Homo sapiens: one gene and its partners. The protein of the gene in region 7 purifies or fractionates together with the protein of the main gene of each other region. This does not show direct contact. Each region holds a gene or a part of one and is shown on either strand. Other genes may lie near its edges.

What was found.
Region 1: the proteins of BYSL (region 7) and DHX36 purify together in Homo sapiens (affinity purification with mass spectrometry; 3 studies listed by BioGRID and IntAct, with this or other methods). This does not show direct contact.
Region 2: the proteins of BYSL (region 7) and PARN purify together in Homo sapiens (affinity purification with mass spectrometry; 4 studies listed by BioGRID and IntAct, with this or other methods). This does not show direct contact.
Region 3: the proteins of BYSL (region 7) and RBM19 purify together in Homo sapiens (affinity purification with mass spectrometry; 3 studies listed by BioGRID and IntAct, with this or other methods). This does not show direct contact.
Region 4: the proteins of BYSL (region 7) and NOP14 purify together in Homo sapiens (affinity purification with mass spectrometry; 4 studies listed by BioGRID and IntAct, with this or other methods). This does not show direct contact.
Region 5: the proteins of BYSL (region 7) and FTSJ3 purify together in Homo sapiens (affinity purification with mass spectrometry; 2 studies listed by BioGRID and IntAct, with this or other methods). This does not show direct contact.
Region 6: the proteins of BYSL (region 7) and DDX18 purify together in Homo sapiens (affinity purification with mass spectrometry; 2 studies listed by BioGRID, with this or other methods). This does not show direct contact.

What each region holds. Positions count from the first base shown.
Region 1 is NC_000003.12:154,282,988-154,286,487, forward strand, and holds part of DHX36 (ATP-dependent DNA/RNA helicase DHX36), read right to left. Parts: intron 2,001-3,500; coding exon 1,827-2,000; intron 1,683-1,826; coding exon 1,596-1,682; intron 285-1,595; coding exon 201-284; intron 1-200.
Region 2 is NC_000016.10:14,620,261-14,623,760, reverse strand, and holds part of PARN (poly(A)-specific ribonuclease PARN), read left to right. Parts: intron 1-3,500. UniProt on the Homo sapiens protein: 3'-exoribonuclease that has a preference for poly(A) tails of mRNAs, thereby efficiently degrading poly(A) tails.
Region 3 is NC_000012.12:113,956,326-113,959,825, forward strand, and holds part of RBM19 (probable RNA-binding protein 19), read right to left. Parts: intron 3,080-3,500; coding exon 2,887-3,079; intron 1,726-2,886; coding exon 1,457-1,725; intron 1-1,456. UniProt on the Homo sapiens protein: Plays a role in embryo pre-implantation development.
Region 4 is NC_000004.12:2,956,907-2,960,406, forward strand, and holds part of NOP14 (nucleolar protein 14), read right to left. Parts: intron 835-3,500; coding exon 700-834; intron 1-699. UniProt on the Homo sapiens protein: Involved in nucleolar processing of pre-18S ribosomal RNA. Has a role in the nuclear export of 40S pre-ribosomal subunit to the cytoplasm.
Region 5 is NC_000017.11:63,818,933-63,821,798, forward strand, and holds the end of FTSJ3 (pre-rRNA 2'-O-ribose RNA methyltransferase FTSJ3), read right to left. Parts: coding exon 2,791-2,866; intron 2,712-2,790; coding exon 2,422-2,711; intron 2,184-2,421; coding exon 2,098-2,183; intron 2,007-2,097; coding exon 1,907-2,006; intron 1,507-1,906; coding exon 1,323-1,506; intron 1,242-1,322; coding exon 1,147-1,241; intron 1,063-1,146; coding exon 870-1,062; 3' UTR 501-869; downstream 1-500.
Region 6 is NC_000002.12:117,821,191-117,824,690, reverse strand, and holds part of DDX18 (ATP-dependent RNA helicase DDX18), read right to left. Parts: coding exon 3,395-3,500; intron 3,042-3,394; coding exon 2,941-3,041; intron 2,830-2,940; coding exon 2,630-2,829; intron 2,545-2,629; coding exon 2,430-2,544; intron 123-2,429; coding exon 1-122. UniProt on the Homo sapiens protein: ATP-dependent RNA helicase that plays a role in the regulation of R-loop homeostasis in both endogenous R-loop-prone regions and at sites of DNA damage.
Region 7 is NC_000006.12:41,927,999-41,931,498, reverse strand, and holds part of BYSL (bystin), read right to left. Parts: intron 1,368-3,500; coding exon 1,229-1,367; intron 865-1,228; coding exon 731-864; intron 104-730; coding exon 1-103. UniProt on the Homo sapiens protein: Required for processing of 20S pre-rRNA precursor and biogenesis of 40S ribosomal subunits. May be required for trophinin-dependent regulation of cell adhesion during implantation of human embryos.

The DNA of each region.
Region 1 (3,500 bases), on a different chromosome or scaffold from region 7:
TATCCTCTGGAACCATGTTTCTTTTCCTTGTTTTGTTGCAGTTGATTTCAGAAAGATCCCCCATTACTTTGTGTATATATACAAATATACTCAATTTCCATATATTTGACTTTTTTGCTATAGATCTAATTGTACAAAATGGATGTATATATTCTCTAATCTAGCATATATGATAATTACTGCAAAACATTCACCATTACCTGCAGTGTGTTTGAAGACAGAAAATATTCCCAGCAATAGTCCTTTTCGTATCTGAAACCACGTCGCCTAGCCTCTTCCCAGCCCTATGGGGCAAAGAAATGAAGAAATCTATATTTCTCCCGCAAACAAAGATTACTACTGGTTTCCCTCTTTACTTTAGTAAAAGCTTAATATTCTACTAATATTTAATTTTCTTTGTAAAAAATTCAAAGAATTTTATAACTGATAAAACTAAAAACACATACACTCCCCATGATCCTAGTCCTTAAGAGACAACCACCACTGAAGTTCCAGACCTTTATACAATTAAGTATATAGTAATATATTAATTATGTATTTTACACAAAATGGCATCCAAACTGTACATAATACACTAATCAAAAAGAACACACTATTAAACTGACTTAAATGCTATTATATATTTTCAAATTCACAGATTTTCTTTATAGTTTGCTTTTTTTTTTAAGAGGAGGGAAATGGGGAAAAAGGAAAGACAAGCTGAATAAGCTCAAAGACAAAAAAACATGAACTTTCCCATAATATGTCACATGAAACAGAATGTAGAGCCACAGAAAAAAGATACTGCCTCTAAAAACCAAATTACATTTAAATTTTACCAAGATAGGTGATAAATGTTTACCCTCAGATACACGTGGCTTTTGGGAGCAGAAAATGTCTCTTTAATCTGAATTATGTACATGATTATGATCCTCTATTACATGTTAAATCTGAATACAGGGTAGTTTATTAATGAATAGAAAGAGACTGTCATTAGCGTTAATAAGCCAAAGATACAAAGAAATTATTAAATACAAAATTTTAAAATAAACTATTCACTTGTTCATTCTTACCAAAAACTATTATTTCCCCAAAACGGTAAATGTAATGAACTATTACAAAATTAAAAATGAATTATAACTTTTTTCAAATGTTCAGCTAAATTTCAACATTCTCAGTAATTTACTCCTGATACCTATGATAATATAGATTTTGGTTTTTTGGTTTTTTTGAGATTGAGTCTCACTCCATCGCCCAGGCTGAAGTGCAGTGGCATGATTTCAGCTCACTGCAACCACCGCGCCCCGGAGTTCAAGCAATTCTCCTGCCTCAGCCTCCTGAGTAGCTGGGATTACAAATGCCCACCACCACACACAGCTAATTTTTGTATTTGTAGTAGAGACAGGGTTTCGCCATGTTGGCCAGCCTGGTCTCAAACTCCTGACTTCAGGTGATACACCTGCCTCAGCCTCCCAAAGTGCTATGATTACAGGCATGAGCCACCGCGCCCGGCCTTATAACAGAGATTTCAAAAGGTTAAATATGATCCTTATTCTATTATTAGCATTTCATTTGAATAAACTATCATAATCCAGGACAAAATTTTTTTTTTTTACCTCAAACGCATTCACAACTGTTAAGTGATCACTTCTAGTATCCTTTGCCAATTCCTTTCTTCTTGCATCTGCAATCTTTTCTTTTCCCTTAAAAATAGCAGACATAGCCAATTTAAATTGCTCTGATGCTATAATGGAGAATGACATTCTAATAAAACGCTAATGAAAAATATATCTAAGCAACTCCTGTTCACATCTAAAATAACTCGGTTTTATTTCCATTTTTCTTACCAGTGGAATGACAAATGGATCTTTGAAACTGAGACTAGCAGCAATAGTGAGTACTGGGTCTAAGCAGCAGAACAGTGCTCCAAAAAGAATCATTTTTCCAATATGTGGCTCAACGGGTAATCGTGCCAAGTGGACTCCAAGAGGTGTCAATTCTTCTTGTTTATCCAAAGCGTTCTGTAAAGGAAGAGTGTGTGTTTAAAATAGATCCTGTAAAGCATTACATTTAAAACGATTTTAGCTTGCTTTAAAAAGAGTAACAAGCCACTACTCTCTCTTCTAAGTCCAAATGCCCAAATATTGTTCAGCTTTAGTTTTCCCTACCAAAACATAAGTTGTGAGGTCAGCAAAGGTTACAAACTTATTTAAACATAACCAAAATTAACACACAACTTGGCTTTTCTGTGTTGAGAGAAATACCAGAAATGACAAACTTTCTGTTAAATAAAGTCACCTAATAAAGTATAAAAGTTGTAGAAACAAACAACAAAAACAAAAGATACACTATTATACATCTGGAATACATAATGCACACTCTCTAGATTCTAGTAGTTTAGGTGACGCGAGACAGAAAAGCAAAAGAAAAAGGAACTATCTAAAACCACAGAAAATGGGAGTGACTTCTGCTCTGATTCCCTAGGTCATCTGGTCCAACCACCCCACTGTGGACAGCTAGAAAAGTAGCCTGAAGATACAAGGAGTTAACAAAGAATTGTAAATCAAGAGGTTAGGGAATGAGAGACATCTAGGGGAGGTGAGTGCAGAGGTTGGGGCCTCTTTTCCTGGCAGAAAGGAACATAAAACCTTGCTGAAAAAAAGCTACCCTCATCCCAAGCTTCAAATTTTTATCTATAAAGAATTTTGTAAACAGAATTTCCAGTGCACAATTAAAATAACTAGGCATATAGATGCAAACAAGAAATAATAATAAAAGAACCCATAAGCATCCCATCAGACACAGATTTTTACTAAACAGTTTTGGAGAAAATACACTTAATTTTTTTTTTTTTAAAAGACCTCTTTCAAATAAAAGAAATGTAAAACCCTCAACTTGTTTTCTGAACCTAGAATAGCTTGATATCTAAATCTTACAAGGACATCTGAAGAAAACTAAATAAACTTACATATGAAAATCACAAAACAAAATAATGGCAAATTGAATGCTGGCAAGTTAGGTTTACTCTAAAAAGAAAAATTTGTTTAATATTTGAAACATCAGTTTAACTGAATACATGAACCAACTAAAATAGTCATACCATAATCTCATCAGAAGCAGAAGATATTTGATAAAACTGATTATCCATACAAGATAAAAATGTCTTAGTAAACTTAACGTAATAAGAGCTTCCACACACCAAAAAAAAAAAAAAAAAAAAAAAAAACACCAACAAACACTTTACTCTCAATGATTTGCTGATAGCTTCTCCTTTAAGAAGAATAAGACAAGAAGGCACACTATCATATCACTTCTGCTCAACATTGTATTAAGGGTCCCAGAAACTTAAAAAAGAATAAATAAAACTCTAATTATTTAAAGATGTGATAATATATGCAGAAAAAAATCTACATGAAGTTATTTGAATAAGGGGACTTTACAGCATTAATGAATACAATCATTCAAAAAGCAACTTTATTTCTGTATTATCAGACTCGAAAGATGATGAAATATTTAAAAGC
Region 2 (3,500 bases), on a different chromosome or scaffold from region 7:
GGTTCAAGCAATTCTCTTGTCTCAGCCTCCTGAGTATCTGGGACTACAGGCACCTGCCACCACGCCCTGCTAATTTTTGTATTTTTAATGGGGACAGCGTTTCACCATATTGGTCAGGCTGGTCTCAAACTCCTGACCTCAGGTGATCCACCCGCCTTGGCCTTCCAGTGTGCTGGGATTATAGACGTGAGCCATCGCGCCTGGCCAGATGTGTTTCTTTTTTTTTTCTTTTCTTTTTTTTTGTTTTTGAGATGGGGTTTTGCTCTGTTTCCAGGCTGGAGTGCAGTGGTGCGATCTTGGCTCACCACGACCTCCACCTCCTGGGTTCAAGCGATCCTCCTGCCTGAGCCTCTGGAGTGGCTGGGACTACAAACATGTGCTAACACGCCCAGCTAATTTTTGTATTTTTAGTAGAGACGGGGTTTCACCATGTTGGCCAGGATGGTCTCGATCTCTTGACCTCGTGATCTGCCCACCTCGGCCTCCCAAAGTGCTGGGATTACAGGTATTAGCCATGGTGCCTGGCTGTGTTTCCCTTCTTATATCCTTTTCCCATGCCACTTCCTTCCCATTTTACTCCTTTTTTCCTAGCTTTTATGTACATGTATACATATAGACATATGCCTAGACACACATACATATTAGCTTTTTTTTTTTTTTGGAGACAGAGTCTCTGTCACCAAGGCTAGAGTGCAGTGATGTTGTCATGGCTCACTGCAGCCTTGACCTCACCAGCTCAAGTGATCCTCCTGCCTTAGCCTCCTCAGTAGCTGGAACTACAGGCACATGCCACCATGCCCAGCTAATTTTTGTATTTTTTGTAGAGCCAAGGTTTTACCATGTTGCCTTGGCTCGTCTTGAACTCCTGGGCTCAAGCGATCTGCCCACTTTGGCTTCCCAAAGTGCTGGGATTACAAGCACGTACCACTGCGCCAGGCTTACATTGTAAAAAATGGGCCGGGTGTGGTGACTCACTCCTGTAATCCCAGCACTTTGGGAGGCCAAGTCGGGCGGATCACGAGGTCAGGAGATTAAGACCATCCTGGCTAACACGGTGAAACCCCGTCTCTACTAAAAATACAAAAAAAATTAGCCAGGCGTGGGGGCGGGCGCCTGTAGTCCCAGCTACTCGGGAGGCTGAGGCAGGAGAATGGTGTGAACCCGAGAGGCAGAGCTTGCACTGAGCCAAGATCGCGCCACTGCGCTCCAGCCTGGGTGACAGAGCGAGACTCCGTCTCAAATATATATATATGGAATCCTAATTTCACATTTTATGCAACTCGCACTTGCCACTCAGCAGAATGTCTTTTATTTCGTAGTATGGATACGTATAATTTGTTTGATCAGTTAATTGAAATTTGGAGGCTTTCCAGTGGTTATCAGCAATTCTATAGTCAACATCTGTGTTCAGTATATCTTTTTGTATGTGTAAGAATTTTTTTGTATTGTAGATTTCCTAGAAGGAGAGTTGTTGAGACATAGGATATATGCATTTAAAGTTTTGATGGATGTCTCAAATTGTCCTCCCAAATATCTGTTCTCATGTCTTGAATCTTTTTATTTTTTTTGAGACGGAGTCTCACTCTGTCACCCAGGCTGGAGTGCAGTGGCACTATCTTGGCTCACTGTAACCTCCACCTCCCGAGTTCAAGTGATTCTTCTGCCTCAGCCTCCCAAGTAGTTGGGTCTACAGATGCGTGCCACCATGCCTGGCTAATTTTTGTATTTTTAGTAGGGACAGAGTTTCACCATGTTGGCCAGTCTGGTCACGAATTCCTGACCTCAAGTGATCCACCCGCCTTGGCCTCCCAAAGTGCTGGAATTACAGGCGTGAGACACTGCTCCCAGCCTCATCTCTTCAATCTTGAACATGTTACATTTATGACAAATCAAAGGTAGTGGCTAGTAAACTCCAAAAGGTTTTGTTAGTTCAAAGGTTTTTTTTTTTTTTTTTGAGACGAAGCCCCTGTCGCCCAGGCTGGAGTGCAGTGGCACGATCTTGGCTCACTGCAAGCTCTGCCTCCCGTGTTCACGCCATTCTCCTGCCTCAGCCTCCCAAGTAGCTGGGACTACAGGCGCTGCCACCATGCCCAGCTAATTTTTTGTATTTTTAGTAGAGACAGGGTTTTCACCGTATTAGCCAGGATAGTCTTGATCTCTTGACCTCGTGATCTGCCTGCCTCGCCTCCCAAAGTGCTCGGATTACAGGCGTGAGCCACCGTGTCTGGCCAAGTTCAGAGGTTTTCTTAAAAATTGTGGTAAAATATATGTAACATAAATTTTACTATTCTAACCGTATTTAAATGTATAGCTCAGTGGCATTAAGTACATTGACACTATTGTACAACCCAAAGAGTGTTGTTTTGATTAGAAAATAAGCAGCTTCAGGAAAGGCATAGATGACTCTGACTTTGAATTCAGTGGGATAAAGGAAAGTAGGATGTTTTGGTGTCTAGTACTAGAAGGACAAAAATGCCTTCCACAGTTTGTGTTTCAGTGCCTTTGTCAGAGATGGAATGTTTAGGTGGGCAGAGTTATAAGAACACTCCAGCCATGGTAGACAGAAGCCCACAGACCAATCAAAATACATTGAGTCTTGGTTCTTGGTTCAGGACAGGATTAAAAAAGAAGTGGGGGTAGGGAAAGATTGCTTGTTGTAAAGTATAAAAGCCTGGACACGATGGAAGTGATTTGCATGTGCTTCTATTTGTTTGTGTGTTTTTCTGTGTTCAGATTGTCTTTTTATATCTCACCATTTCAAAACGATTTGTTTTGGTTATTAAAGATATATACGGTATTTACCTTTTAACATAAGATTAAAAAATTAGTAAATGAAAATTTGAAAGAAAAGAAAAATGATACAATCACTATGGTATGAATAGAACACAGAATTTGTGCCAAAGAAAGTGTAATTTGTTTGTCCCTGAGCTTCCTAGTAGCAAAGAAAAGAGGGAAACACAGTCATTCCGTGGTCCATAGGATTAGGACAATCCAGAACTCAGGATTAGTATAGCTTTCCCCAGAATAGAGACCTCAGAACATTTACCCTTGAATTATAAGTAAATGATTACTGTAGAAAACCTGATCTTCAATCACATCTCTGAAGTCAGTACTGTGATAAGTTTAATGGAACTGTTTGTTACCATGTCCTTCAATCTAGACTGATGGCATAATGTCAAAGTACAGTGCAGGAAAGGGACCAGATGAAAATGATTCAGATGTGTAGCCTGCTGATGTTCTGACTTGGCCAAGAATAAAATTAGAGTAGCTACAGTAATGCTTATTTCTTAAGTTCATTTGAGTATGAACTCCATAATTTTGCCGTGCTTGTGTTTCATCTATAGTATTGTTCACTTAATACAGTGTTTTTTGTTTTTTGTTTTTGAGATGGAGTCTCGCTCTGTCGCCCAGGCTGGAGTGCAGTGGCACAAACTCAGCTCACTGCAAGCTCCGCCTCCCTGGTTCACACCATTCTCCTGCCTCAGCCTCCCGAGTAGCTG
Region 3 (3,500 bases), on a different chromosome or scaffold from region 7:
ATCCCAGCAATTTGGGAGGCTGAGGTGGGTTGATCACTTGAGGCCAGGAGCTCAAGATCAGCCTGGACAATATGGTGAAACTCCATCTCTACTAAAAATACAAAAATTAGCTGGGTGTGGTGGTGTGTGCCTGTAATCCCAGCTACTCGGGAGGCTGAGGCATGAGAATCACTTGAACCCGGGAGGCAGAGGCTGCAGTGAGCTGAGATCACACCACTGCACTCCAGCCTGGGCGACAGCAAGACTGTCTCAAAAAAAAAAAAAAAAAAAAAAAATACAGGGCTAGGCAGGGAGAGAAGTGATGCTTCACAGAGAAAGGAGGGAACAGGGACCTGGACAACATGTCAAACTGCTCTGTCTCTGATGCAGAGAGGACTCCCAGGTCAGAGACGAGTTGGCCGACCTCTGGGGAAGCGCCCACGTTTATGATCTCGACTTCAGACCCCACAGACCTGGGGCTAAGTCCTGAACCCACCATTTCCCAGCCATGACCCTGGCTGAGGCACCTTCCTTCTCCAGGCCTGTTTCCTCATCTGTAAAATGGAACAAGACCAATACTGCCCTCCAGATAGTGATGAGATGCAACGGCACGGCAGGCATGGTGCCTAGTGTGTAGCGCAGGCTCAGTTGATCCTCCCTATGATTGCTGATGACTGGTCTGCACCCCTCTGCCTGTGTTGTTACTAAATACAAAGGATAAAGGCTCAAAGCCATCACTCAGCTCACTTCTGCCCCATTGGTGGGATATGGGTGTGTTGACCGGGGCTGCTCCAGTTTGCCCGGGATAGTTGTTCACTCTATCTGTAGTCATTAGACCTGCAGTAACTACATCCACAGCCTGGCACCCCACTGGACTAGCATCTCACTTTTAACTTAGTGTTGACAATAATTTAGTTGTCACCCTACTTATAGGCAATTTCTGGAAGGCAGGTGACCTCTCCAGGTTAGCAACAGAAAATAAATGCAGAGGCTGGGTGCAGTGGCTCATGCCTATAATCCCAGCACTTTGGGAGGCTGAGATGAGTGGATCACTTGAGGTCAGGAGTTTGAGACCAGCCTGGCTAACATGACAAAACCCCATTTCGACTAAAAATACAAAAAATTAGCTGGGTGTGACTATAATCCCAGCTACTCAGGAGGCTGAGGCAGAAGAATCACTTGAACCCAGGAGGCGGAGGTTGCAGTGAGCTGAGATTGCACCACCGCACTCCAGCCTGGGTGACAGAGTGAGACTCTGTCTCAAAAAATAAAATAAAATAAAATAAAAATAAAAACAGAAAAGAAACGCAGAAAGAACACACGGCGAGCAAGCGGCAGGGCCAAGATCGGGAAGGCTTTGGACTGCAGAGCTGCGTCTTTCCCCAACATTCCGCTCTCCTAACAGAGGAGCTGTGGGGACCACGGGCAAGCAGGAGAGCGCACCTCCTCCCTCATCACCTGCGGGATACACACGCACCTCGGCTCTGGCCTCCGGTGGTCTCTTTTTCCCAGCTGGCATCCCTTGCTCTTGGCCTGCACCCTTGCTGTCTCTTTCCTGCAGGACTGGGGTGGCGGAGGAATCCTCTTCCTCGGCCTCACTCCCTTCATCACAGTGCACGGCTTCATCTTCACTTTCCTCTTCCTCCGAGGAAGAGGACGACCCAGCCTTCACCATCTTGGATTTCAGGTAATCCATGTCCGACAGCTCCTTCTGCACAGCTGCCTTTGGTTCGAGGCTTGCCTCTTCTGGAAAAACAGGGAAGCTGGGATCAGCGACAGCTATGAGCAAACCAGAGGTCAGAGGTAGCAAATGGTAGATGGTCCTCCTAGTGAGAGGCCTGAGGCACCATGCCCACCGTGTCCATGGCCCCTGTGCCCAGCATCCCCCATAAGTCCTCTGATTAGCAATACCAAAACGGGGCAGGGCTACTGCAGCTTTGATATTCTCTGTGCCACACATTGAGCTCCTGGCTCCCTGCCACCAGCCATGTCTTCCTAGTCCTCTACACGGCAGCCTCTGTGACACTTTACAGAGTAGGTACAGGACGGTCAGTCTCTGCTTAATACCCTCCAGGGGTTTCTGAATGCTCAGGGTGAAATCCAGGCTCCTCATCAGGGCTGGCTGCGTGGGCTTCTTCCACTGTCTCCTCCTGCTCAAGCCATCCCAACCCACATTGAGCCCCTCAAGCCCATGCACTTTCCTTTCCTCTGTGTCTCTGCGATGCTGTTCCCTTGACTGGAACCCCTTTCCTCTCCCCTCCCCTACCGTGTCCCACTAAGTCCCCTGAGTTCCTCGGATGTGAACTTAGTGCAGAAACGTTACCAGGCATAACTGCACTAAATGTACATCTTCTCACCTTTAGACCCAAATAGATGCCCAGTTCTCCACCAAGCACGTACCCTCCTGTGTTGCAACTGTTTTCTTGCCCACCAGGCCTCCCCCACACCACAAACCCCTTCTGAGGACAAAGGCTCACTCCCTCACCTCCTCAGGGAGGCCTTCCCTCATAATTCTCCTGTCGCCTTTCCTGCTTTCTCTCTGTAGCATTCATCATCCTATGATATACCCAACAGTGGACTTATTTGCTTATTGTTTCTCTCCACAACCATAATCACAGCTCCATAGGGGAATAAACCCTTCTGTCTTTTGCTTATCAACATGGTCCCAATGCCTGAAGTATGCCTGGCAGATAATAGGTGCTCAAGAAATATTTGTTGACTGACTGACTGAATACACAACTAGGATCAGTGAAGACAGATGCACCTGCAGAGGGATCATCACCCCCAATGGAGAGCTCAAGGGCTCACCTGACTCCTAGAGTCTGCACAGAGGGGCCCCCAGTGCCGGTTAGCCCAATGGCAAGCACAGGTCCGTGCGCATGGAGCACACAGTCCCCATGCCCTCACCTTCCAGGTCCTCCCCGGCTCCCTCCTCCTCACTCTCCTGCCCAGAATCGGAGTCGAAGTTCAGGTAGTCACTGGCCGGCTTGCTCTTCCCTTTCGAGGGCTCAGCATCCAGGCCATCATTCGCCCAAGTGGCTGCCTGCGCCCGCCTCTGATGAACTGACAGAAACTCCTGGAACTCTGTATCCTCCTTCAGCTGGTGGCACCAGAACCCGGGCGGCAGGGACACGGGAAAAAGAGAGAGGAAGAGGCAGAGAAGGCTCAGGTGGGGCTTGATCTTTCTAACTCTTAAGAGGGTGAGAAGATCCCTCAAGCTAATTTCCCCCATTCTCTGGAGGACCCCGAGGTTCAGCTGGGTCAGTTCTGAGGAAGGCAGAGTTGACTCCTCACTAGACAAAACTAAGAGGACAAGAAGACAAGGCCAGGGGAGACCAGAGGCACAGCTCTGCTTGCCAGGGCCAGCCTCCATCCTCTCCAGCCTCTTCCCTCTCCCAGTGTCCACCCTCTCCAGCCTCTTCCCTTTCCTAGCCTCCACCCTCTCCAGCCTCTACGGTCTCCTAGCCTCCACCCTCTCCCAGCCTCTACCCTCTCCAGTCTCCACCCTCTTCCACCTGCTG
Region 4 (3,500 bases), on a different chromosome or scaffold from region 7:
GAAATATGACAACGAATCCTAAGCAGCCTTAAAGAGTATTTTGGGTCAACTAAGCAATGATTCATGATTCAGACAGAAATGAAACTCATGGAGGGTAATTCTTTTTTTTCCTTCAGACAGAGTCTCGCTCTGTTGCCCAGGCTGGAGTGCGGTAGAGTGATCTGGGCTCACTGCAACCTCTGACTCCCTGGTTCAAGTGATTCTCCTGCCTCAGCCTCCTGAGTAGCTGGGATTATAGGCATGCGCCACCACGCCTGGCTAATTTTTGTATTTTTAGTAGAGACGGGGTTTCATCACGTTGGCCAGGATGGTCTCGATCTCCTGACCTCATGATCCACCCACCTCAGCCTCCCAAAGTGCTGGGATTACAGGCATGAGCCACCGCGCCCGGCCTCATGGAGGGGAATTCTTAAATAAGCCCAGGGGCCAGTTTCCACTCCAGCAATGCTGCTCAGCTGAGAACTCCTGTGCACACTGCTGCCGTGTAGTAGAGTTAAGGCATTTATCCATTCAGCTAACATTTGCAGAAGAGGTTGCTTCTCCTTTGGCCTAGCCAGATAAGGCACAGGATTCGAGGGCTATCCCCTGGACCTTCCGAGTGCCCAGGAACATGCAAAACATGCAGAGTCAGCCTTCTCCTTGGCCTTGACTTCCCTGTGAAATGTACAGCAAAAACCCTCCTCCAGTTTCTTTCCATACCTGCTGTTCCAGAGCAAACCTCTTCATCATCTTCTCCTCGGGGCTCATGTTGCTGTTGTATTCTCCGAAGCGTTTATCTCTGAATACATTGGATTTATCCCTTTCTTTGTACTCTTTTAGTAAAGTCTGTGTACGCTGGAAAACAGGTCAGAAACAATCTCACAAAAAATTCTTGTGATTTCCACTACAGGGGACATCAGAACAGTGCATACTTTAAAGTTCAGGGCTATGCACAGTGATGTCAAAGTTCACACCCAATCTGCTTTCATGCACGATAGGCTTTCTCTACTAATCACAGAATTTTGAGAAGAGCAAAACAACTTTCAAGGATAATGGGGCAATCACTTTCTTTTCTTCTTTAGAGTCTACCGGTGCCAAAAGGAAGGGTAAAAAAGAACACACTAGTCAAGCTCAAGGCATGAATGGCTCCCTCGGCTGTAACAGCTGCCTTAAGGTTTAAAACGTGCACATTTGGAAAAGTGGAAATGGGTTTAGACTCCTTCCGTCATGGAGGAGGGTACTATTTCCCATCAAAGGTACTCCTAAGAAATGTGTAGTTGTGAGTTCATACTAGACACAAGGCAATAAACAAGTTAGCGAGGTCACAGTTTAGGGGCTTCACCTTTATAACACCAAGAGGAGCAATATTTTAAATACGGTTAGCAAGTATCAAATAATTTGGTTATTTTCCCAGCAGCAACAAAAAAAGACCAAGTTTAACAGTATTCAAAGTTGGCTGTCCTGGAGGTTGAATTCCCTAAAGAAAGCTGTGAGAGGACAGAGATGGGTGAGGAACGAGTGGCCTCTGCAACCTGAGATGGCCACATTGCAAACTCTTTCTTGCTGCGGAACTTCTTCTATTTGCTAAGGAACTGCCATTACACTGGTGTTTACACAGCAATTCCGAAAGGAAATGGCATCAAGGCAAAATCTTGATGCCATGGAAGGCCCTTGGAATGATCCAATTCAGTGGTTTTACAAACCCACCACAAATCGGTGCCTCGGCAGACATTTGAAACCTCTCATCTAACCCGACTTAAGTGTTCCTTGCCTTCCTCAGGGATTCCTCTAATTTGTGAAGTCACTTTGAAAGAATGCGTGCGTGTGGCAGGAGGGAGCGTGTGGTGACTTGGTCACTGCCACTCTGGTTCCAAGTTCTGTTTCAGGAGGGGACAGGTCAGATTTTGCTCCAGACATAGGTCACTTCCCCAGGGTCGGAGATGAACTTAAAGGCTAAGAAACCCAGATTTAAGGTCAAAACCAGGAGCTGGAAGAGGAGGAAAAGAGAGTGGAAGGGGTTAAGAAGCAGCTGGGCAAGAGCAGAAGATGCTCCAGCAGGGACAGAAGCACGACCTGGCCCTCCTTTCCATTTAGAGCACATTCCATCTGGAGAGGTCAACCGAAATATTAATCATGTGGACAGGAGAAAAGGATGTGAAAAAACCATTTCTCTTATCTCACTTTGAAATGTGAAAGTGCTATTATTACACTTAAAATGCATGAAAAACCCCTCTGCTACCTGAAGAGTAGGAAACCATCCATTAGTTCAATAAATACTGCCAAGGCAATTTTCGTCATTTTCTTCAAGAATATTTCAAGAACCAATTTGTTTCAACTGACACACGCTGAGTTATTAATCCCTAGTAACTTCTAGTAACTTCCTACCGTGGCAGTGCTAAACAATGTTTGTTAAAAACACCTTTGGGGCCGGGCGCGGTGGCTCACGCCTGTAATTCCAGCACTCTGGGAGGCCAAGGCGGGCGGATCACGAGGTTAGAAGATCAAGACCATCCTGGGTAACATGGTGAAACCCCGTCTCTACTAAAAATACAAAAAAATTAGCCGGGTGTGGTGGCGGGCGCCTGTAGTCCCAGCTACTCAGGAGGCTGAGGCAGGAGAATGGCGTGAACCCGGGAAGTGGAGCTTGCAGTGAGCTGAGATTGTGCCACTGCACTCCAGCCTGGGCGACAGACAAAGACTCTGTCTCAAAAACAAAAAAAAACAAAAAACACAAACAAACCACCTTGGGTACAATTTCCTGAACCAGAGTCTAAAGACAGCGAGTGTCCCCAGATAGACCAGAGGGCTCCATCGCCATTGCTCTGTTCTCTCCGCTTCTGTTACGAGCCATTCCAGAGCGAGATCCTGCTGGATGCTGATAGTGAACCACACACAGTACTGAATCAGGTTAAGCTCTCTGAACCTTCACCATTCTTTATCCGCAGAGCAAAATTTTAAAACAACATCTCACTATTTAAATCACAAGGTCTAGCTGGCAATCAGATGGGAGCACATTACATGTGCTAGCCTGTACTGCTCGATGAACTCTGTACGGACAGAGGCTGCTTGCATGCTACACTGAGACCTTTTTTTTTTTTTTTAAAGATGGAATCTCGCTCTGTCGCCCAGGCTGGAGTGCAGTGGCACAATCTCAGCTCACTACAACCTCCACCTGCCGGGTTCAAGCAATTCTCCTGCCTCAGCCTCCCCAGTAGCTGGGATTACAGGCGCACGCTGCCACGCCCAGCTAATTTTTTTGTATTTTTAGTAGAGATGGGGTTTCACCGTGTTGCCCAGGCTGGTTTCGAACTCCTGAGCTCAGGCAATCTGCCTGCCTCGGCCTCCCAAAGTGCTAGGATCACAGGTGTGAGCCACCAAACCCAGCATACACCGAGAAGACTTCTGAGGTCTGTCCCTGCAGAGGGAGGGAGTGTCACTGGCTTCTAGCAGGAAGGGGGTAGATGGGGCAGGCATCAGCCATCTCTGCCTCTAAAAATATTAGTTCTCATTATCTGGAATAT
Region 5 (2,866 bases), on a different chromosome or scaffold from region 7:
AGGTTTGCATCCAGCCCTGAGACATGTAGGAAACACCTTTCAGACCCAGGCTCTGAAGATTCCCAGAAGCCACAAGGATTGAAGGGAAAAGGTGATCCTGGTAACTGTTCCAGGATTGCTCCAGGTTTGAGATGGTATTGCTAAATTTAAAATTAAACAAGAAACCCAACAACAGCTTTTAAAGTGTCTTCTATCTCATTGTATTTTTTTTAACTTGCCCCAATGATAGAAAAGTCTTTTGCTGAAATGATTTTGATGATTTTTGTTTATCGTTTATAAAAAGGAAAAGAAATATACAAACTTTGACTTTTGTGACTTTGTGAAGGTTTCTTTAAGATGTGCATTCCTTTCTGCTTGCTCTCTAGTAAATGTTTTACTACCGGGACCTGTGGATCGTTTGTCATTTCTGTCTATGAATTGGTACATATTAAGAATAGTGCCGCACACAGTGTAGGGACAGATAGGGAAGTGCTTATTAAAACTGTCAGAAAAGACAACTCTTCCATTATCCTGGTTTTATTCAGGAATAGGATGGGGGTGGGGAGGGCTTAAGTGGCCCACACGTCCAGGTGTAGACTGACTACATTGAGTATCGCTCCAACACCGAACTTCCCTTTAACGGTTTAAAAAAAGGGTCATGAGTGTCAACACAGTTCAGCAGTGTTTTCATGGGAGACCTTCAGGCAGGCAGGAGGACATCCTCCTCTCTGCTCAGGACCACCACGGGAGTTCTAGGCACTCCACCTCACTGTTCTTCAGACAGCTGTGATGTGAGCAGGGGCTAGGCCGGTAATCAAGGGGGCCAGACTGAGCCATGCCACACCCTTCCTCCTAGTCCCCATGCTCTCCTGGGAGCCTGGCAGCTCTGCTTACTTCCGTTTGTGTTTTTTCTTTTGTTCCTTACGTTGCTGTGCTCTTTGGTCCTTCTTCATCCTTGAGTCCACCACCTTGAAATGACCTCTGACTCCAGCTGGCCGGCGCACTTTGCGGCCCACACCTTTTTTGGCTACAACGTAGGTGACATGGCGTTTCTCCTTGCCAAGCCCAGCCTTCTTGTAGAGACTACAGGGGGGAAGAGAAGAGGTTAGAGGCTTGCTTTCTGCTGCACTTTTAGCCCTGTGTACCTTTGTGGTGTCCTCCCATTACCTTCGCAGCTGTGCCACTTTCTCTCGTTCTGAGATGTCCACTGTGTTCACCACGGCTTCTGCCTTCTTCCTGGTCTGCTCCAGCCTCTTCAGCATCTGCAAAGGAACCTGTCAGGTGACCTCTTCCCCATCCCCCCACCCCCACCCCACCCAATCTCTGGAGGCCCCATCACTTACCCTCCTTTTCTTTCTAGCCTTAGCCTCAGCCACCTTCTTGATGGGACGTGCATTGATTTCCCGCCAGCGTTTCCGGTAATGCTCCACCTCCTTCTTACCAACAGGCAACTGTCGTATCCGGTGCTGCTTTTCCTCTTGCACAAACCACTCCGGAAGCTCCCCCTCATCCTCATTAAATGTGTACCTGAGTGGAAAGGACATCTGTCTAATATCCAACATTCCAGGCTTTCTAAAGAAATTACCAGACTGGGCACGGTGGCTCACGCCTGTAATCCCTGCACTTTGGGAGGCTGAGGTGGGCAGATCACCTGAGGTCAGGAGTTTGACCAGCCTGGCCAACATGGTGAAACCCCATCTCTACTAAAAATACAAAAATTAGCTGGGCGTGGTGGTTGGCACCTGTAATCCCAGCTACTCAGAAGGCTGACTCAAGCGATTCAAGGAGAATCAGGCTGCAGTGAGCCAAGATCGTGCCATTGCACTCCAGCCTGGGCAACAGAGCGAGACTCCATCTCAAAAACAAAAAATTACCCATTTACCCACCAGACCCTGGGTCACTCTTGATGAGTTTATGGCCCCTTTACCGGTTGAAGGAGTTATCTATGAGGTCTCTCTTGGCCTTTTTGGAAGAGGCAATAACAGCACCTAGAGCAAGGCCTTCGGGGTCCAGTATCCGATGTTTCGCTAGAGAGGGAAGGAGAAAGGTCAAAGCTCAATTCCCAATACTGAGACTTCCAGTGGTCTTTTCTCATTCCACTGCATACAGAGCTCTCACCTGGGTCCTCAATAGGCACTATCTCAAACCCGTCATCATCTGACTTAGGCCCACGGCTTCGCTTCTTACCACGGAGGGGTTCCCAGCTGTGAAGAGGGGAGGACTCTGAGTGATTCCACCACTCTGTACTACTCAGACCGCACTCCCACGGAATTTGCAAAAATCCTGCCATGCAGGCTGTACCCCAGACCAGTTAAATCAGGATCGTCAGTACAGTATTTTTAACCCTCCCCATGTGCAGCCAAGATTAAGAACCCCCAATTTAGAGAAATGGTTCAAGCCACCGCTTCCTTTCCATCCCTTCTCTCAGCTGCAACTACTCACCTCTCTTCTTCCTCACTGCTAGTACTGCTATCACTGTCTGAGATGCCATCCTTTTCTTCCCCTTCAAGGCCAGTGGCAGCTTCTGTCCCCGAAGAAGCCTCTGTTCCCTTAGGGGCTTCATCTTGGTACAGGGGAGACATTATCTCAGTCTTCAAACAGGAAGGGGGTGTCTGTGGCAGCTGCTGCTTCTGCTGCTGCTGCCGTCCCTTCCGCCGGTTCTCAAATAACAGCTGGGCCTGACTGATCTCCAGGGCCTCATCGGCATCGTCCTCGATCCCAGCAAAGCTGCCCTGTGATAGGAGAACATCAGCTGCCCTTCTCCCAAGGAAGACTCATCTCCCCGCAGTCTTGCCCCCGGCCTCTCCTTACCTTTGAGAACCACAGGTTGGCTTGTTCTTCCTGCAGTACTGCCTTTTCCTCCAGTGGTACCAGCAGTGGATTCTCC
Region 6 (3,500 bases), on a different chromosome or scaffold from region 7:
TGTTGCATTCGCTTTATCATCATCAACGCCAACATACAATGGCTCCTTTTTCAGAGAAATCCTTGCCAGGTCTTCAACTTTTCGAGTTTGGGTGGCAGAAAAGAGCATAGTCTGTCTACGTGCTGAAACAGATACATATAAAAATAACCCCAATCTTTTAGGGAATCTTTACAATTGCCTCACAACTACAAATATTCTAGGTAGAGATATCAGAAATGGGAGATATGATGTTTCTACAGAATCTACAAATATTACAAAAGGTAAAAAGGGTATATCATGAAACACTAGGTCTATAAATTTGAGGACTTAGATGAAATGGACAAACTCCTTTGAAGACAAACAACTGAAGAAAATAGGAAAACTTTAAATAGCCTTATATCTACTAAAGAAATTTTAGTTATAACCTTCATGTAAAGAAAATTCCAGGCCCAAATGGATTCCATTGGTGAATTCTACTGAACATTTAAGAAAAAAACATCAATTATTCACAAACTCTCCAATAAATTAAAAAGAGGGCTTACATGTCAACTCATTCTTCGAAGTCAGTCATTACACTATACAAAAACCTGACATGACATGACAAGAAAACTATGGACCAATACAATTCGTGAGCACATATACAAAATTTGAAATAGAATTTTAGTAAAGTGAATTCAGCAATATATAAAAAGGATAATGGCTCATGTTTATTCTAGAAATGGATCAGGTTTATTCTAGAAATGCAGGTTGGTTCAACATTTGAAAAATCAACCAATACAATTCACTATGTTAACTAAAGAAAAAACATGATTATTTCAGCAGACAGAAAAAAAACATTTGACCATCTATTTCTGATTAAAAATCCTCAGCAAACTAGGAACAGAAGGGATCTTCCTCAATCTGATAAAAGGCATCTATATAAAACCTGCAGCTAACTTCATATGTAGTTAATGGTAAAAGACTGAATGCTTTCCCCTAAGATCAGAACCAAGATAAGGATGTCTGCTCTCACCACTTCTATTCAGCACCATACTGGAGGTTCTGGCCAGGGCAATCAGGCAGGAAAAAAAAATTAAATAAAGAGGTGAAACTGTCTTTATCTGCACATGATTGCCTATATAGAAAATCCAAAAGGCTACAGTCATCTGGAAAGTCATACTGAATAATCATTCGGTACAGGATTAACTGTCTTGCTAGATACAAGATCAATATAAAATTCAACTGTGTGTGCATATATATGTGTGTATATGTGTGTGTGTATATATGTATATATTAAAGCAACGAGCAATTGGAACTTGAAATTTTAATGAAACACTCAGAGATAAATCTGACAAAAGATGTGAATAAACCTGTATCCCGAACCCCCCTAAATATGATAGAGAAAATATCGAATACATGGAGATATACCTTATTATGGGTTACATGACTCAATACTGTCTTCCTCCAATAATCTCTATTCAATAAAATCTCAGTCAAGATCTGAGACTTTTTTGGAGGGAAGGGGGAGAAACTGACAAACCAATTCTAAAATTTATATAGAAAAGCAAAGGACAAGAATACCACAACTTTAAAAGAGAACAAACTTGGGGCTAACATTACCTGATGGTCAAGACTTAATAGGAGGAACTGGAACTTTCATACACTGCTCATAGGAATGTTAAATGGTACAGCCGCTTTGGAAAACATCTGGCAGTTTTTTAAAAAGTTAAACATACACTAAACATATACCAACTAGGACACTCCTAGGTTTACTTAAGAGAAAAGGAGATATATGCCTCTACAAAGAGTTGTAGATGACTGTTCACAGCAACTTTATTTCCAGAAAATGCAACCTAATCTAGCAGCAGAAAACAGATCAATACTCACCTGGGGACAAGGTATACGTGTAAGGAGGGGTGGGAGGGAGAAATTGAAAAGGGGCAGGAGGAAACCTTTGACTGTGATGGACATGTTCATTTTCTTGATTGCAGCGATGATGTCACAGTGGTAAACAAATCAAAGAACATCAAATTGTACATTATAAATGGGTAGATATAATTATACTTTGACAAAGCTTTTAAAAATAAATTATATAATGAAGGAAACCATGGTCTTAGTTATAACCAGTTCATAATGTTGCAAGTACTATAACCAAGGTATGTACAAGTAAGGCAAAAAATCTGCGGCTTCTTGGGGGATGTTAGATGAGGTAAGAATGGGCAAGAGGTGGAGGACAGGACCTATGTGAAGACTGCTTAACGTGCCTTATAACTTCTAAAACAGCAAAACTATTATATCAAGTTATAATACATTTGATGCTTGTATTCCAAATTACCTTTCGGGTTAATTGGCACAACTACCTCACTTGGCTATGGTAAAGTTCTGGCATTAGTACAGTTTTTCTATAGGAACAACTCTTATCTACCTCCAACAGATACTTTGCAAACCAAATGCAGATGCTACCTACTTACTTGGCAAAAGTTTAATAATTTGCTTTAATTCCTCTTCAAACCCCACATCCAAGATACGATCAGCTTCATCAATAACCAGACACTGCAGGTTTTTATACATAAATCCTGGGGTATTCTAACAAAACAAAGGACAAAGAACAACCATTAGTTGTCAGTTTATGTTTCATACAAGACAATGAGACAAGCACTACATCTCTTACCTGCATATGGTCCAGCAGACGGCCTGGTGTGGCCACAATGATGTTGATCCCATTACCAAGTTTCTGTGCTTCAGCAGATCTGTTACTGCCACCCATTATCAAGCCATAGGTATGCACGTGGTGAGTCATCAGCTCCTTAAGAACACCAAAGGTTTGCATGGCTAGTTCTCTAGTAGGTGAGAGAATAAGGACTCCTGTTCCTAAAAATGATATATGGTAGAAGTCTAAATGTGGCTGTCACCACTGAGTCCGTAACAGCTACAATAAACCTCTAGTGAAATAATGGCAGAAACAAGCAGATGAACGCTTACCATTCCTGGGCATGAACCTTAACTTAACAATGAGTTCAACTGCAGGGATGAGAAAAGCCAGGGTTTTACCACTGCCTGTTTTTGCAGCTGCTAGAAGATCCCTAAATATTAAAAAGGGAAAGGAGAAAGACATTTAGCCTACTCATTTACGACGTACTACATACACACACCTTAGGCACTACGGCTAGAACATGAACAAGAAACGTCTACAGTGCTGAAATTGATCACCTGGGTTATATACTGAAATCATAAGTCAGAACTGTGCTACAACAGAAGCAGAACACCTTTCGAACACTTTCCTTCAAACATCAGTAATTAACTTAAAGCCTTTAATGTATGCTGGATACATGACCCAACATATAGTACAAAATCAACAGAATATACTGGTATGTTCTTTATCATCTACTAGTTCTAAAAATAGATGCCAATATCTAAGCTTCAATGTTAATCATACCTGCCTTCCAGAAGTGGTCTGATACTTTTATGCTGAATTTCAGTCATGTTTGTAAAACCCATTTCTTTTATTGCCTTCAGAGTGTTTTCATTGACAAGATTACATA
Region 7 (3,500 bases):
GTTGAGTCGTTTGTATTCAGCAACGTCATCTCGTACTCGAGGGAGCAGGACAAGGTTGTAGAAGCGCTGGGCCATGCGTTCCTTCAGGTTAGAGGCAAAAATCCTAGTGGGAGTTAAGCGGGGGAAGTTTCCAACTCACACGACAGTCTGGACCCGGCCCATTAAATATCACCATGGATAGTGCATACAAGAGGTTTTAAAGTAAAATATGGGACCTTTCTTTCAGTGGGGGATGTGTGGGAGCTGTGTGCATGCAACACCCATCAGCTTAGAGAGAGAATAGGAGGGGCAATGAGATATACCCAAATGAGGAGCACCGTTTGTCTGTGGGAGAGCCAGAGCTCGTGCAAACTGATGGCTACTCAGCATCAGTTGAGTAGCCCTGAGCATGCCTGGGCAGTCACAGACTTCTGAGGGTCCTGCTACAGGGTTGTATCCCAGTGGCTATAAAAGCCTCTCCCCTAGAAATTCATCACAGAGGGTTGTATCCCAGTAGCTATAAAAGCCTCTCCCCTAGAAATTCATCACGGAGGGTTCCTAACTGGCTAACTGGGTCTTGGCCCCAAAAAATGACACAGGAAAAGCTAGAAAAATGATGCTATAAAGTAGCACAGAGAGGGCCCTGGGGCAAAGCTCAAATGCCCTGGGGCCAGAGGCAAGGAAAGCCTGTCCGTCCCAAACTCAGCCTGCACCTATAAACCCAAGGCCCCCGAACCCCCAGCTACTCTACCTGGTGGCCTGGTACATGGCAGCTGCAGTCCAGGCCTCCGGCTCTGTGACGTAGAGGATTTGCTCCCAGTTGGAGAGTGCAGGGATGATCTTAAATGCCTTGGGCAGTTTTCCACTGCGGTACTTAGATAATACCTAGGGATGAGGGAGGTAAAACAATCATCGTCATCCACATATGGCAAGCTTGCTGTGGGCTAGGAACTTGTCTGGGTGCTTTTAATATATTAACTCATTGCATCCCCACAATAACCTATAAGGAGGTGCCATTATTATGCTCATTTTACAGATGACCAGTGAGAGTTCCAGTAACCGACCCAAGGATGCCAAGTCATTTACAGGCAGAGCAGGAATCTGAACCCACACACTCTGCCTCTTAGGTCTGTTTTCTACTCCCATGACTTCTTTAGTATGTGATGCAGGCAAAAGGCAAAAAAGCCTGTGGCAGGAGCCCACAGCCCCCAAAGGGGTCTTCCACCATGGCTCCCCTCTCAGCTCTTACCTCCCGGACCCCCCTGTACACTTCTAGGACCCGGGGGTCCAGCTGGGGCATAGGGAAGCCCGACACCTCTGACATGACTGTCTCAACCTCTGTCTGCTTCTCAGTCAGCTTCTCCATGATGATGTCAGCCAGGGTGCGCCTAAGAGGGGAAGTGCCAAGAGGAGGGGAGAGAGGGGGCAAGGAGCACTGTGGTCACTGTCCAGGAAGCTCCAGACTCCCCACAGTCCCCTGTGAGCACCGCCATACTGCGATCCTGCTGGGATATGCAGCTTAGAGTTCTCTCTCTGTGCCCATTCATCCACCACAGACAGAATCACTGCAGGGTGCAAAGGAACTGAAAGTCATTCCATTTAGGACAAAGCTAGCAGTTGTACGGAGGTTATTATGAACCTCAACTCTGAAGTCAGTCTGCCCAGGTTCAAATCCTGGCTCACCCACTCCCTGGTATGATCTTGGGCATGTTACTTTACCTCTCTATGCCTCTGTTTCCTCATTTGTAAAATAGGGATAATAACGGTACCCACCTTAAAAGATTAATGGAAGGATTAAATAAGTTAATGTCTGTTCATTACTTGGAATGGTCAGTACACAGTAAGCGTTATCTATGGAAATATTTCTAAGACTGATTATATTCTTTTCAGCCTCCTTAAACAGTATTGTTGGGTGTATCAAACATAATCTTATCTTAATGATTCAGAATTACCATCGCCTTGAGCTGTCATATAATACTAGCATCTTCAGAGGCTGCTGAAGTGTATTTATTTATTTTTTTTGAGAGAGAGTCTACCTCTGTTGCCCAGGTTGGCATGCAGTGGCACCATCATGGCTCACTGCAGCCTCTATCTCTCTGGCTCAAGCGATCTTCCCGCCTCAGTCTCTCGAGTAGCTGGGACCACAGGAACATAGTACAAGGCCCAGCTAGTTTTTTATTCTTCTGTAGAGATGGGGTCTCCCCATGTTGCCCAGGCTGGTCTCACACTCCTGGGCTCCTGCCTTGGCGTCCCAAAGTGCTAAGATTACAGGTCTGGGCCACCATGCCCAGACTGAAATGTATTTAAAGCTGCTTCTCAGTTGGGCGCAGTGGCTCACGCTTGTAATCCCAGTACTTTGGGAGGCTGAGGGAGGTGGATCACGTGAGGTCAGGAGTTTGAGACCAGCCTGGCCAACATGGTGAAACCCTGTCTCTACTAATAAAACAAAAATTAGCCAGGCGTGGTGGTACGTGCCTGTAATCCCAGCTACTCGAGAGGCTGAGGTTGCAGTGAGCTGAGATCATGCCACTGCCCTCCAGCGTGGGTGACAGAGTGAGATCCTGTCACAAAACAAAACAAAAAACAAACTGCTCCTCTTTTCTGAGGTCCTACTCAATGCCAGGCACTGAGTTTGGGACTTTTCAGTCCTAGAGTCAGCGCAACACTTATAGGACACGGAAACTTATGCAGACATGGGAACTGGGCCTCAGGTTAATAACTCACCCAAGGCCTCACAGCTGTCAGGTGGGGGTAAGAGTCAAACTCAGGTTTTTGGAAGTCTTGAGTTAAGGTGCTTTATAGTACCTTATAATGTGCCCCCAAACTAAATGGCCTCTGATTGTTGAATTCATGTGGATCTAGGCTTGCTTTCTGAAGATGCCAGCTATCATTTCTTACGACTGCCAGGAGTTCTGATTACTTCAAGGAGCTTGTCTACTCTATTTACTACAAGCTGGAAAAGCATTCTGCTAAATTGGTCAGCATTATCAGTGAAGTAGGAGTTATGAGGTGCTGAGTGAGAACCTGAGAGGCTCTCTGGGGGGACAAGCCCAAGTACATACTTTATGACATATATTTCAACTGTTAGGCATCAATCTGGGAGAGGGGCTCATTTTCATTTCTTCATTCTGCATTTTCAAATAAGCTGCCACAGAATTTATCAGCCTCCCTGTCCTTTTATAGTATGATTAGCAATGAGATGCATTAGCCCAAAACAGCCTAAAGTATCAGGGACACCATTATGTTAATATCACAGGGTCAGAATGAACTGGTTGAGGACCCTTATCCTAGACTCCACTCCCAAGGGCCAAAATTTATGGGCTCAGGAGTTTGACCACAGGCAGTCTAAATGCCTGCATGTTTTGGAGCTAGCATTTATTATAGATGGGAATAAATTAGTGGTCCTGACTAGGGGCAGTCTTGCCTCCCAGAGGACATTTGGCAATGTCTGATGTCATTTTTGGTTTTCACAACTGGGGGAAGGTTGCTACTGGAGTCTAGAAGTAGAGATCAGAGATATC